Linked DNA regions of Homo sapiens. The protein of the gene in region 3 purifies or fractionates together with the protein of the main gene of each other region. This does not show direct contact. Each region holds a gene or a part of one and is shown on either strand. Other genes may lie near its edges. The genes, in order: TEDC1, RIPK4 and ENPP6.

Region 1 (2,901 bases), on a different chromosome or scaffold from region 3:
AGATCTCAGGTGTGAGCTGGTGGTGTTGGCATCTCAAGCAGGTCTCACTTGGTGTGTCAGGGGGCACCTAGGGGTGTGGGGGGCCAGCCCACACTGGGTGAAGGGTTGGGCACAGGGCTGACTGTGGGAGGGGACAACTGCCCTTCAGAACCCAAGGCCAGGCCCACATGGGGTGTGCTGGACCGAGCCTCCCAAGCTGGAGCCAGCTCCATAGGCCCTGGAGACTTGCAGTCCCGTTCTGCTTGCTACACCCGGACCACCCGGGGGCACGGCGCTTTCTAGGCAGGCCTGCCCCCGGCGACCGGGGCTCTGTGGTCCCAGGCAGATCCTGAGCCCTGGATAGCATAGACCTGGAGGAAAACCTGCCTCTGAGCCCCAGGTGGCTGTGTGACCTTGGGGAGACAGCATCCTCCTCTGACTGGGGCTGCTGGAGCACTGACCCAAGTGTTAGGGTTGACCTAGCCCCAGGCATCTTCCCCAGGGATGGCCGCTTCCTCGCACCCTGCTGCTGGCCTTCCATCCTCATCCTTCTTTCTGGGGGTCTGCCCGCCCGTCATCACTGGCTTCTTCCTCTTGGCTGGCTTGGTTTCAGGGGATAGGGCAGGGCTGGCTGCCACTCTTTTAATTTATTTTATTTATTTATTTGAGACAGAGTCTCGCTGTGTCGCCCAGGCTGGCATGCAGTGGCACAGTCTTGGCTCACTGCAACCTCCGTCTCCTGGGTTCAAGCGATTTTCCTATCTCAACCTCCTGAGTAGCTGGGACTACAGGCACCTGTCACCACGTCCGGCTAATTTTTTTGTATTTTTAGTAGAGACGGGGTTTTGCCACGTTGGCCAGGCTGGTCTCGAACTCCTGACCTCTGGTGATCCACCTGCCTCGACCTCCCAGAGTGCTGGGATTACAGGCGTGAGCCAACCACTTGGGCTGGGCTCTGTACTGTCCTGAGTGACGGGCTGGCACTGTCCTGCTCCAGGTGCATATGGCCGGGCAGGAGGGCAGAGGCTCAGGGCTGGTGTGACCTCTTCTTCCAGACCCAGTCCCCCTTCTCTGCCTCTTCCCTCTCCAATCCCAGAGACTTGGCCCCTGTACCTCATCCCAGGCCTGCCCAGGGGGACCTAGGGGTCAGAGGCGGATGGCCTGGCTCCTGGCCCCTAGTCTTGTGTCTGCTGGGGCTTCCTGCTCGTAGCAAGGGCCTGTGGGTTCCAGCTCTGCAGCCCAAGCCTGGGGGATTGCATGCCTCACTCATGGGCTTACAGGGCCCAACCCCTGACGCCTGCCTGGCCCCTGGTGCCAGCTGGACCTGTGTCCCTGGCTGAAGCCGGGCTGGCGCCCACCCAGTCAGCCTGCACTGGCGTTGGCAGTGCTGAGGCAGCATCCGGGCGTCCTGGTCTGCCCTTGTCCCTACCTGCCTTGTAGAGGCGGCTCAGCGAAGCCCAGGCTTCTGGCCCCTGGGACCCCTGGGTTGGGGCAGAGGAGAGGCTGCCCTGGCCCCAGGCTGCTCCTGCCCAGTGCCTCTGTGGGACCACCCTCTGTGGTGGGCTGGGGGGGCCTGGAAGTGAGGCCCCGCCCTCTCCCCGAAGCTGTGTGCGGCACTGGCCAGGTGGACTGGGGCCATGGCTGGCTTCCTTCCAAGGTTTCTGGAGCGGGAGCTGCCCAAAACCTGGACCTGGCCTACCCAAAGTGCCTGCACTCCTTCTGCACTCCTGGGATGGGTCCCAGAACCTTCTGGAATGATCTGTGGCTGGTATGTGAGCAGCCAGGTCTGCTGCCGGGTGACTGGGCAGCACCCTTGGATCCTGGTGGGGCCTCAGCCTGCAGCCTGCTCTCCCCTTTTAGGGCGGTAAGTCGGGGAGGCTGGCAGGGAAGTGGAGACCGCAGGACTTGGGGGTGGGTGGGAGGGGGTGGCGAGGGGGTGTGTTTGCTCCTCCTCTCCTGCCTGCTCCCACCCCTGGCCCTTACCTTCTTGGGAACTGTGGTGATTGCCTTCTGTCAGGTGTGTTGAAGCGGCCGTACCCATGGTGGAGGCCTTTGCTCTTCTTGTGGCGTGCTGGGGTGGGCAGGTGGGCTGCAGCCCCGGCACCAGCCTGCTCCAGCTCCCACACCGCCCACAGACCTCCCTGTCCTCATATTCTCTGACCGCAGGCCTGCCTGCCTCTGCTCTGCTCCGCCCCAGAGGGGCTGGGTTGGACCTGGTGTTCAAGGCCATTCCTATCTGCCCCCCAGCCCACTGCTGGAGCCCCAGGCCCCTGCAGCCTGCTCCACACTCTGGGTTCCCGGGGGAAGCAGGGGTAGAGTGGGGCAGGATTCAGGTGTAGAGGGCCTGTCCCCAGCAGGGGTCCCCTTGCCCCGGGCCCAGGGTCACTGGTACAGATAGCCCATGAGCGAACCTGGGAGGCCTTCCGTGTGTGGGCAGAGCAGCTGCTGTGTCCTGGCCATTCTCCAGCCGCCTGTCTGTGGGCACTGTGGGCAGGTACCTTTGTGCAGGGCCATGGGGCAGGCAGGGCGGGGTCTCCTGGCCCTGCCTGACCCTTCACTTGGGAATGTCAAGTGTGGCTCAGCTCTGCCTTCTCTGCCACCTGGGTCACTAGGCAGACTCCTCACTGCCTTAGGGGGTCCCTGAAGTTACAGGGGATGGGTTTTCCCTCCCCCAGAGCCTGGCTTGCTCCTTCGTTTGGGGCCTCCCCGTCCGCCTGCAGTCCCCGGATACAGCCCGCATTCAGTGAGGGCTGTGGGGCAGAGGTCTAGGCTTGAGAGGCACCTGGACCTGTCCCTGACCTTGTTGGACTGGCAGTGGGGCTGGTGTGGGGGACAGCGGATGTCCTCAGAGCCGGGGGGCAGCTCTTGCCTGGCAGGCAGGGCCTGGCCGTGCACTGGTTGGGGGCTGCCCTGCACTGCAGA
Region 2 (3,650 bases), on a different chromosome or scaffold from region 3:
TGCAGGAAAGGTTGGGGGGCCGCCCAGCCCCCAGACACTTAGCGAGGCTCCCAGGGACAGGAAGTGCCTGCCAGGGGGCCCTCCTGGGAGTTCACAGGTGACACCCCATTGATCTGAGATTACCTTCATCATGGGGCTCGGTGCCTCGGAGGGTCCTGTGGGGTGGCTTTGGAGAGGCAGCTGGCCTCCCTGGCTGACCCTCATTGTGGGGGTCACAGGGCCTAGGGTGGGGTGTAGGGATGGGTGCTGTGACCAGTTTGGAGAGAATAAAGTGATCCCAAAGGCCCCGTTCCTCCCCTACCAGCCCCCAGCTAAGGGGATGCTCAGAAGAAGCCAGTGCCTGCGGGGCGCCGGCTGGGAGACGCTCCTGCCACATTCAGCCCTGGCTGGTCGGGGCGAGCCTGAGCAAACCCCAGGTTTGTAACAACAGAGCTGACGATTGGACAAGCCCGTTTCTTGTCAGTTTTAAAAATAGCCGTGTGGGAACCCCTCCGAGGCTCCCTGGGAACATAATTGGATTGGTGTGCAGAAGGCCTCGCTGAGAGGCATCAGCTAACAGATGATGAAACACATTTTCCGGCTGCATTTTCCTGAAGGTAGTTGCTAGGTTTCTCCTTCGGAGCTCTTTGTTACCTGAGCGGTCTCACCGTCTCCCCCACCTCCCTGCTTCTCACTTTTCCCTTCGTTTATTGCTTCTCCGCTTGCACAAGACCATGTCCCGGGGCAGTTCTTTCCCCCTTTCCAGGATGCGTGCTTGCAGGGGAAACCGCAGCTGGCCTGGTCCACAGGTCTTTGGAATTTCTGAGCCTGGAGAAGAACCTTGGGACTTCTTTAGAAGTTCCTTTTAGAGATGATTGGTGTGATGATATTTCTCGTATTTCTCGCTACTCCATTGGCCTCCCTGGGAGGGCGAAATACACTTTGGCTAGCCCTAAATGAGGAGAAAACCGAATTCATCTAAGTGCTACTCACCGTATCTTTAAAAAGTTGAACCCCAAGTTAATCCTAATTAATGCCCAGAGATTTTTCATGTGGAACCCAAAACAGGACCCAGGACACTTTTGCGGGGGAGGGGGGGCTTTTCCCGTTCCTGCGTGGAAGCAGAATTAGCAACGCTTTCACCAGCAGCGAAGGAGAGGGGAATAGGATGCCACCCCCTCTGAACTGTGCCTAAGCGTAGCTGCGCTTGGAGCAAGGCACAGTTTTTAGGTTGTGTTTTAATTAACACCGACGAGAGGGGCTTCTGGTCAACCCAGAAACGTTGACTTCACTGTCAACAGTAAGAAATGCGATTTGGAGACGGTGCGAATGTGACTGTGTGATGTTCTGTGCTCCCTGGCCGCCACCCCAGCACCTAGGCTGGATTCGGCATCTCTCCACGTGTTAAAATGATAATAGTAATAAATCTACAGTTCCTTTTGTGTGGTCATCAGAATAAGCCAGAATCATTAAAATAAGCCAGAAACACTGCTTAGGAGAAAAAAATGTATTAAAAAAAATAGTGCCATTGCTCAAAAGCAATTGGTGGGTTCTTTCTGTGCTTCGAGTACCTGAGCACTTCTTAACCTCCCTGATCAGAAAAGCCTCTTCTTGCAGCTTGTTGCAAAGAGGCCCTTTCAGGCTTATTGAATTGCAAATGCCGCCGGGCGACACCCGACCCCAGAAGGGCTGGAGCTTCCTAAAGCCGCTGGAGTTTCCCAGATGTGCGCCTAGGGAGCACCTGGAGAGGGGCTGGAAGGCGGGGTCGTGTGGGTTTTGGCCCAGTGGTTACTGGATGGTAAACAGTGTGGAAAGTTTCTGAGGACATGCTGGTGCTTCTGAGCGAAATCCAGGCTGGTAGGCAAGGGAGCCGCCCCACCCCCACTCCTGGGCCTCAGATCTCCCACAGGGCGGTCCCGGGACCCCCTTCCTCAGCTGGAATCCTGTCTACCCCAAGCCAGTTTGGATCATGCTGTCACAACACTTTTGTCCACGGAAACAATGACTTTTTTTTTCCAGGACAGCTGATTTTCCTCGAGAAAGTGCCCTCAAATGTGTGGCCCATGGAAGGGGGAAGTCGTGCCGGGCTCCCTTCAGGCAGTTGCGCAAAGCTGGGGTGGACTCCGTTAGGAGATTCTAGCCGGGATCCGCTTTCAGGAGCCAACTAGCAGCAGTGGCCCTTTTTTGTTTGTTTGTTGTTTCTTTTAAAGTAAGGTAAATGGGGTCTCCGTTCTGCAGAAAGAGCCCGGGGCAGGGAGAGTAAAGTACTTGCTGAACTCGGTGCGCTGGGGAGGGGTGTGCACTGCTGCCAGCCCGTAGCTGTTAGAGTCGCCAATGAGCTCACTCTGCAATCAGAAGTCACCGGGGTTTTATGTATTAAGCCCTTTGGGCAAATAAAAGAAAACACTATTTGTGGAGTGGCTCAGAGCTTCCACTTAATAAGCTACTCAGCCTTCCTTTGATTGACATTGTTCTCAGAATACGTGTTTATTATCAGTCAGCTTTGGCTTAGAGAGTTCACTCTCAGAATGTCTACTTAATGTGGAAAAATGACCCTTGCGAATGGCTGGCCTCTAAACACCCGAATTGTCATTTCCTCAAAACCCTCCGGCGAGGAGGGTGTGCCTCACACGGTTGCACAGTGGATGTGGGTCTGAGTCCTACGGAAGGACTTTCGCCAGCGCCCCGGGGCAGAGTGTCCGGAGGAGGGAGGCCACACTGGTAGGGGAGGGGCGGCAAGCTGGCCACATTTGAGCAATCGGAAACAGACAAATCATAACTCTGATTCTTAACAAGACATAAAAGAGAAGCAGCAGCTGGTACCATGTCCCAGTCCGATGGTTTGGAAGTTAGTGGCAGTTGCCGGGTTGGAAGTTGTGCTGGTATTCCTTTAAATAACAAATGAGGGCCTCAGCCAACCGGTGTTCCCAGAGGAGGAGAAAGGCTGGGAGCTGAGAGGTGTCATTTTCCTTCTTTGGTGACCGGTTTCATTTTAGCTGATGCTTGACGTTGGCATCAGGTCCTCGTCTTCCTTTTTTCCCAATGCTCACTGAGACTGGGGACAGGGTTGAGAGTCCCACGATCTGATCTGCACCCCCCATCCCTTGATGGGTCCCAGAGCCTGGCCCAAGCCTGTGGCTGCAGGGAGAGGGATTTCCCCTGGAGAGGGAGGAAGCAGCCGATGGTATGCTGGTGATGGGGCAGCTTTCAGCTCAGCCCAGGGACCCCCACAGGCTAGCACTGCACACTGGTGGGCATCTTGTTTTCCATTAGTTGGTCATTTAACCAGAGCGCTAGGAAAGCAGGCCGTGCTCCCCTAAGTTTTGTCTCATAATAATTTCACGTTCATTCCTGATACTTGCTTCACTTGTTCCCAAGGCCAGTGGGATTCTTTGCTCCTTGAGTGTATTCAGACACACTCGACCTGCCCACCCCCCACACCCCCCAGCTGCTCCTCCTGGGGTGCTCCCGCGTCCACCGTAGAGAGCTGCCTAGTGACCCCTGGTGCAGCTCCAGAGAGGTCCTGCAAGCTTCTCCCCTCCACATGCAGTCAATGGACCCATCCTGCAGATTCTTCCAACAGAGTGTGTGTGCTCTGCTGGCTTCCCCTCTCTGCTTTGCCAAGCCCAAGGGGATCCACAGCGACTGCTCCGCTCTGCTGGCCTCCCGGG
Region 3 (3,650 bases):
GTTTTATTATGTAACTTGCAGATTTTCAGGACGAGTGAAGGAGGAAAATGGCAGAAGAGTTCAGGAAAGACAAAAATGCAAGACTGTGTCTAAGTTTATGCCTCTCTTGAGTTTGATGATCCAATTTTAATTTAATCATTTGAGTATCTCTTAGGGATTCTTCCTCCACAGTGGAGGAAAGTGGGCTCTACTGAATTCATTGGAACACCGTCCTTTAAGGAGAAAGAAACTTTGAACAATAGACGTCTTTTTCAACAACTACTGCCAATGTTTTGAAAGTTGTCATTTGTTTTCAGCTAGATAACAAAGGCTGAAGAGTTGCCTTCTTTCCAATTGATCCGATGGTTTACTGGCGCTTTTAAAACACATTACATAAATCTTTAGAAATCTTTTGTGAAGGTAAATTCAGTATTTTTAAGCAGTGATCCTTTGCTCTCATGATTCATGGCATGGAGACAGCACCCAGCTTTCCTGAATCAAGGTGAACGTTGATATTCAGTTTTCAAGGTAACACACCATATAAGGCCTCCATCGTCCTGAGGAGACCTGATATATTGCCTTTTCCTGACAAAAAGTCTCACTTGCAGATGTACCTCAATTAGTGCAAACTTTTTTTTTCTTTCTATTTTTTGGGGGGGGTGGAGGATGGGGTCTTGCTCTGTTGCCCAGGCTGGAGTGCAGTGGTGTGATCAAAGCTCACTGCAGCCTTGACCTCCTGGGCTCAAATGATTCTCCTGCCTCAGCCTCCCAAGTAGCTGAGACCACAGGCATGTGCCACCATGCCTGGCTAATTTTTTAAAAATCTTTTATGTTTTGTAGAGATGGGGGTCGCCCTGTGTTGCCCAAGTTAGTCTGGAACTCCTGGCCTCAAGGGTTCGTTTGTCCCTCCTTGGCCTCCGAAAGTGTTGGGATTATAGGTGTGAGCCACCATGCCCAGCCCAAACTCATTTTTTAATGCAGTGATAGTGTATGCAAGTATATATATGTATATAGATATAAATGATCATGTAAAAAGGAGTTATTTCTTGTGTTACAATTTCTCCTATAGCAAACACAGATGACTAAGCTAAAAATATTTCAACTCAGGCTCAGTGGCTCTTCTCAAAGGTATCAAAAGAACTTAGGTCTCAAAGGTGGTACTTTGGCCAAACTGTTTCCTAATCAAACGACCAGTTAGTTGGTCAGTGACTGGGACTCTGCTCCATCATGCTCTCTCCATTCTCCACCCAGCACCATTTTCTTTGGAATTCTATGCCACTCAAAGACTGTTGTTGAGCAAGCCATGCTGCAGGGGTACTGGTGTCCAGGATTAAGGCTTAGTGCATCACCTCTCTGAGCAACCCACCGAGATCCTTGCTGATGCCTCCACATTCTCATCAGTGAGCCAGCCCTTTCCCAGGCTATAATGTCATGTCAGGGATTGCTCTTGTCTGCACCCTATATTGGGAGCCACAGAGTGGCATGTCTGAGGAAGCCTTTGCACAGGTGAACGGACAGGGAAGGCAGGCAGGCCATCCATTTGTCCATCAATATGCAGGGCCTGCTATGTGCCGGGCTTCATGCCACGATACACTATGTGTGATAAGTCTCACAGAAGCCCATGTCCATCAGAAGCTTTTCTGCTCCTCAAGGCAAGAGAGAAATTTTCGTGCACTCAGACTTTGGGAGGGCACTCATGTCTTTCACCTTGTTCTATGAGTTCTCCAATCCTTAGTGATTTATTTATTTTTTGATTGATTGGTGATCCATGCTAAGTTACGTCCTTTCTGGAGCTCAGTATAAGATGAAAAAATTCCATGAGCTGGGTCAGAAATAGACAGTAGCTTTTGCTTTCATGTAGACCTCCTTTTATCAGGGATGGAAGGAACAGTACAGGATTGTGGCCACAGACACTGAGGATGGCTCCTGGGTGTGGACAGGGCACAGACAAGGGCCTGGTCTGAGGGGGTCCTTTGTGCAAGGTGGGACAGAGAGGGGCCCAGAGCCACGTCTGTCTGCAATAACCACTCCAAGTTTGGTTGCTGCAGGAGCAGGTCCCTGCTCAGAGAGTTCATCCTGAGTAACGTGAAAAGAAAGGAGAAAATGACATATAACTGCACAAATGGAAAGCTAGGATTTTCCTACCTTCTGGAAAAACAAGGTTTGTATCTTTTTTAACAAGTAGGAACTTTTATGTATAGAATTATCCAAGAATAATGTATTTACAATGTGCATGGTCTTGATTGTGTTAATGAAGCTATTATTCACACATAAAATGAAAATCATCTGGCTTTGGAGGCCCACTTTGCTGATGGTGTTTTTTTCTGAGACAAGCAATATGATCAGTTATGCAAGCAGGAAGAGAAGAATCAGTGCCAGGGCACAGTGGCTGGGCCAGACAGGCGGGGCAGTGCTGGCGCGGCCCTTCAGCATGCACATCACCCTGGACCAGGATCCGTTGTTGGGCAGCGGGGTGATGCCCACCACATTGCACATGACATTGTAGACGTCCACCGACCTGATAGGAGCAGCTCTGAAGTTGGATTTGAAATCTGAAAGGGAAAGGCAAACAAACAAGTTGTCATGGCAGCTCCAGGGCAGAGGTGGGCTGAACGCAATAAAGAAGAATTACATTCAGGCTGCAGGTGACATTGAGATTAGGGAATCAGCTCCATCAGTGGGGTGTGGCCTAGTGAGTGTGAACATAGAAGGGTATCCGGAAGGCTGTAGGTTAGAAAGGGAAACAGCTTTCTATGGCTCATGGAGATGAATTTCTTTAAAAGACAAGCAGCAGAGCCAGGCTTGGGGGCTCACACCTGTAGTCTCAGCAAGTTGGGAGGGCGAGGAGGGAGGATTGCCTGAGCCCAGGAGTTTGAGACCAGCCTGGATGACAGAGCAAGACACTATCTCTAAAAAAAATTTTTTAAACCAGGCATGGTGGTGTGCTCCCAGCTACTCGGAAGGCTGAGGTAAGGAGATCACTTAAGCCCAGGAGTTCAAGGCTGCAGTGAGCCATGATAGTGCCACTGTACTCCAGCCTGGGCAAGAGAGCAAGATCCTGTCTCAAAAAAAGGTAATCAGCAAACAGACTTTCTTTGTGCATAACTGTGCTCTCTTTGTGACAACAGCACTTTCTTTGGGGGCTGCGGGGAGGCTGAAGTGCCATCTGATGCTGCTCCATGTCTGCAGAGAGCACAGCAGAGCCTGTATGGTCACAGAGTGACTGTCTTGCCCTTAACCAAATTAAATGCTATGTCATTTTTCAGAACATCTATCTAGCCCGGACCGACAGCCAGAGTGCCAGCGTCTACTGCAGAGGCCGCACGGCAACTCAAGAATGTTTTCTCACTTTGCTGCCCCATCGAGGTCACAGGTCTTGATGGAATGTGAAACTGCAGTTTTCTCGGTGCTCGCTAGCTCAGCAGCCATGGCGATGGTTTCCTAAATACATTTGGAAGATGAGTGGAACACTCTTTGGGAGCATTTTACCAACAGATAAAATACATTAGCCATGTGGAAAATGAGCAAACTGGTATCTGAATCAGGGATCCATGTGCAGGCTCTGAGCGATCTAATGGAGAAGACCACTGTGCCTCTGCCCAGAGTGGCCCCAAGCTCGAGAGTCACGCAAGAACACACAGGTAGGGTGGCCACACGCAGCACGGTGAGTG

What was found.
Region 1: the proteins of ENPP6 (region 3) and TEDC1 purify together in Homo sapiens (affinity purification with mass spectrometry; 3 studies listed by BioGRID and IntAct, with this or other methods). This does not show direct contact.
Region 2: the proteins of ENPP6 (region 3) and RIPK4 purify together in Homo sapiens (affinity purification with mass spectrometry, with the first as the bait; 3 studies listed by BioGRID). This does not show direct contact.

What each region holds. Positions count from the first base shown.
Region 1 is NC_000014.9:105,494,244-105,497,144, forward strand, and holds part of TEDC1 (tubulin epsilon and delta complex protein 1), read left to right. Parts: intron 1-1,636; coding exon 1,637-1,843; intron 1,844-2,901. UniProt on the Homo sapiens protein: Acts as a positive regulator of ciliary hedgehog signaling. Required for centriole stability. May play a role in counteracting perturbation of actin filaments, such as after treatment with the actin depolymerizing microbial metabolite Chivosazole F.
Region 2 is NC_000021.9:41,760,531-41,764,180, reverse strand, and holds part of RIPK4 (receptor-interacting serine/threonine-protein kinase 4), read left to right. Parts: intron 1-3,650.
Region 3 is NC_000004.12:184,088,852-184,092,501, forward strand, and holds part of ENPP6 (glycerophosphocholine cholinephosphodiesterase ENPP6 precursor), read right to left. Parts: exon of another isoform or gene 3,246-3,650; intron 2,532-3,245; coding exon 2,326-2,531; 3' UTR 1-2,325. UniProt on the Homo sapiens protein: Choline-specific glycerophosphodiesterase that hydrolyzes glycerophosphocholine (GPC) and lysophosphatidylcholine (LPC) and contributes to supplying choline to the cells.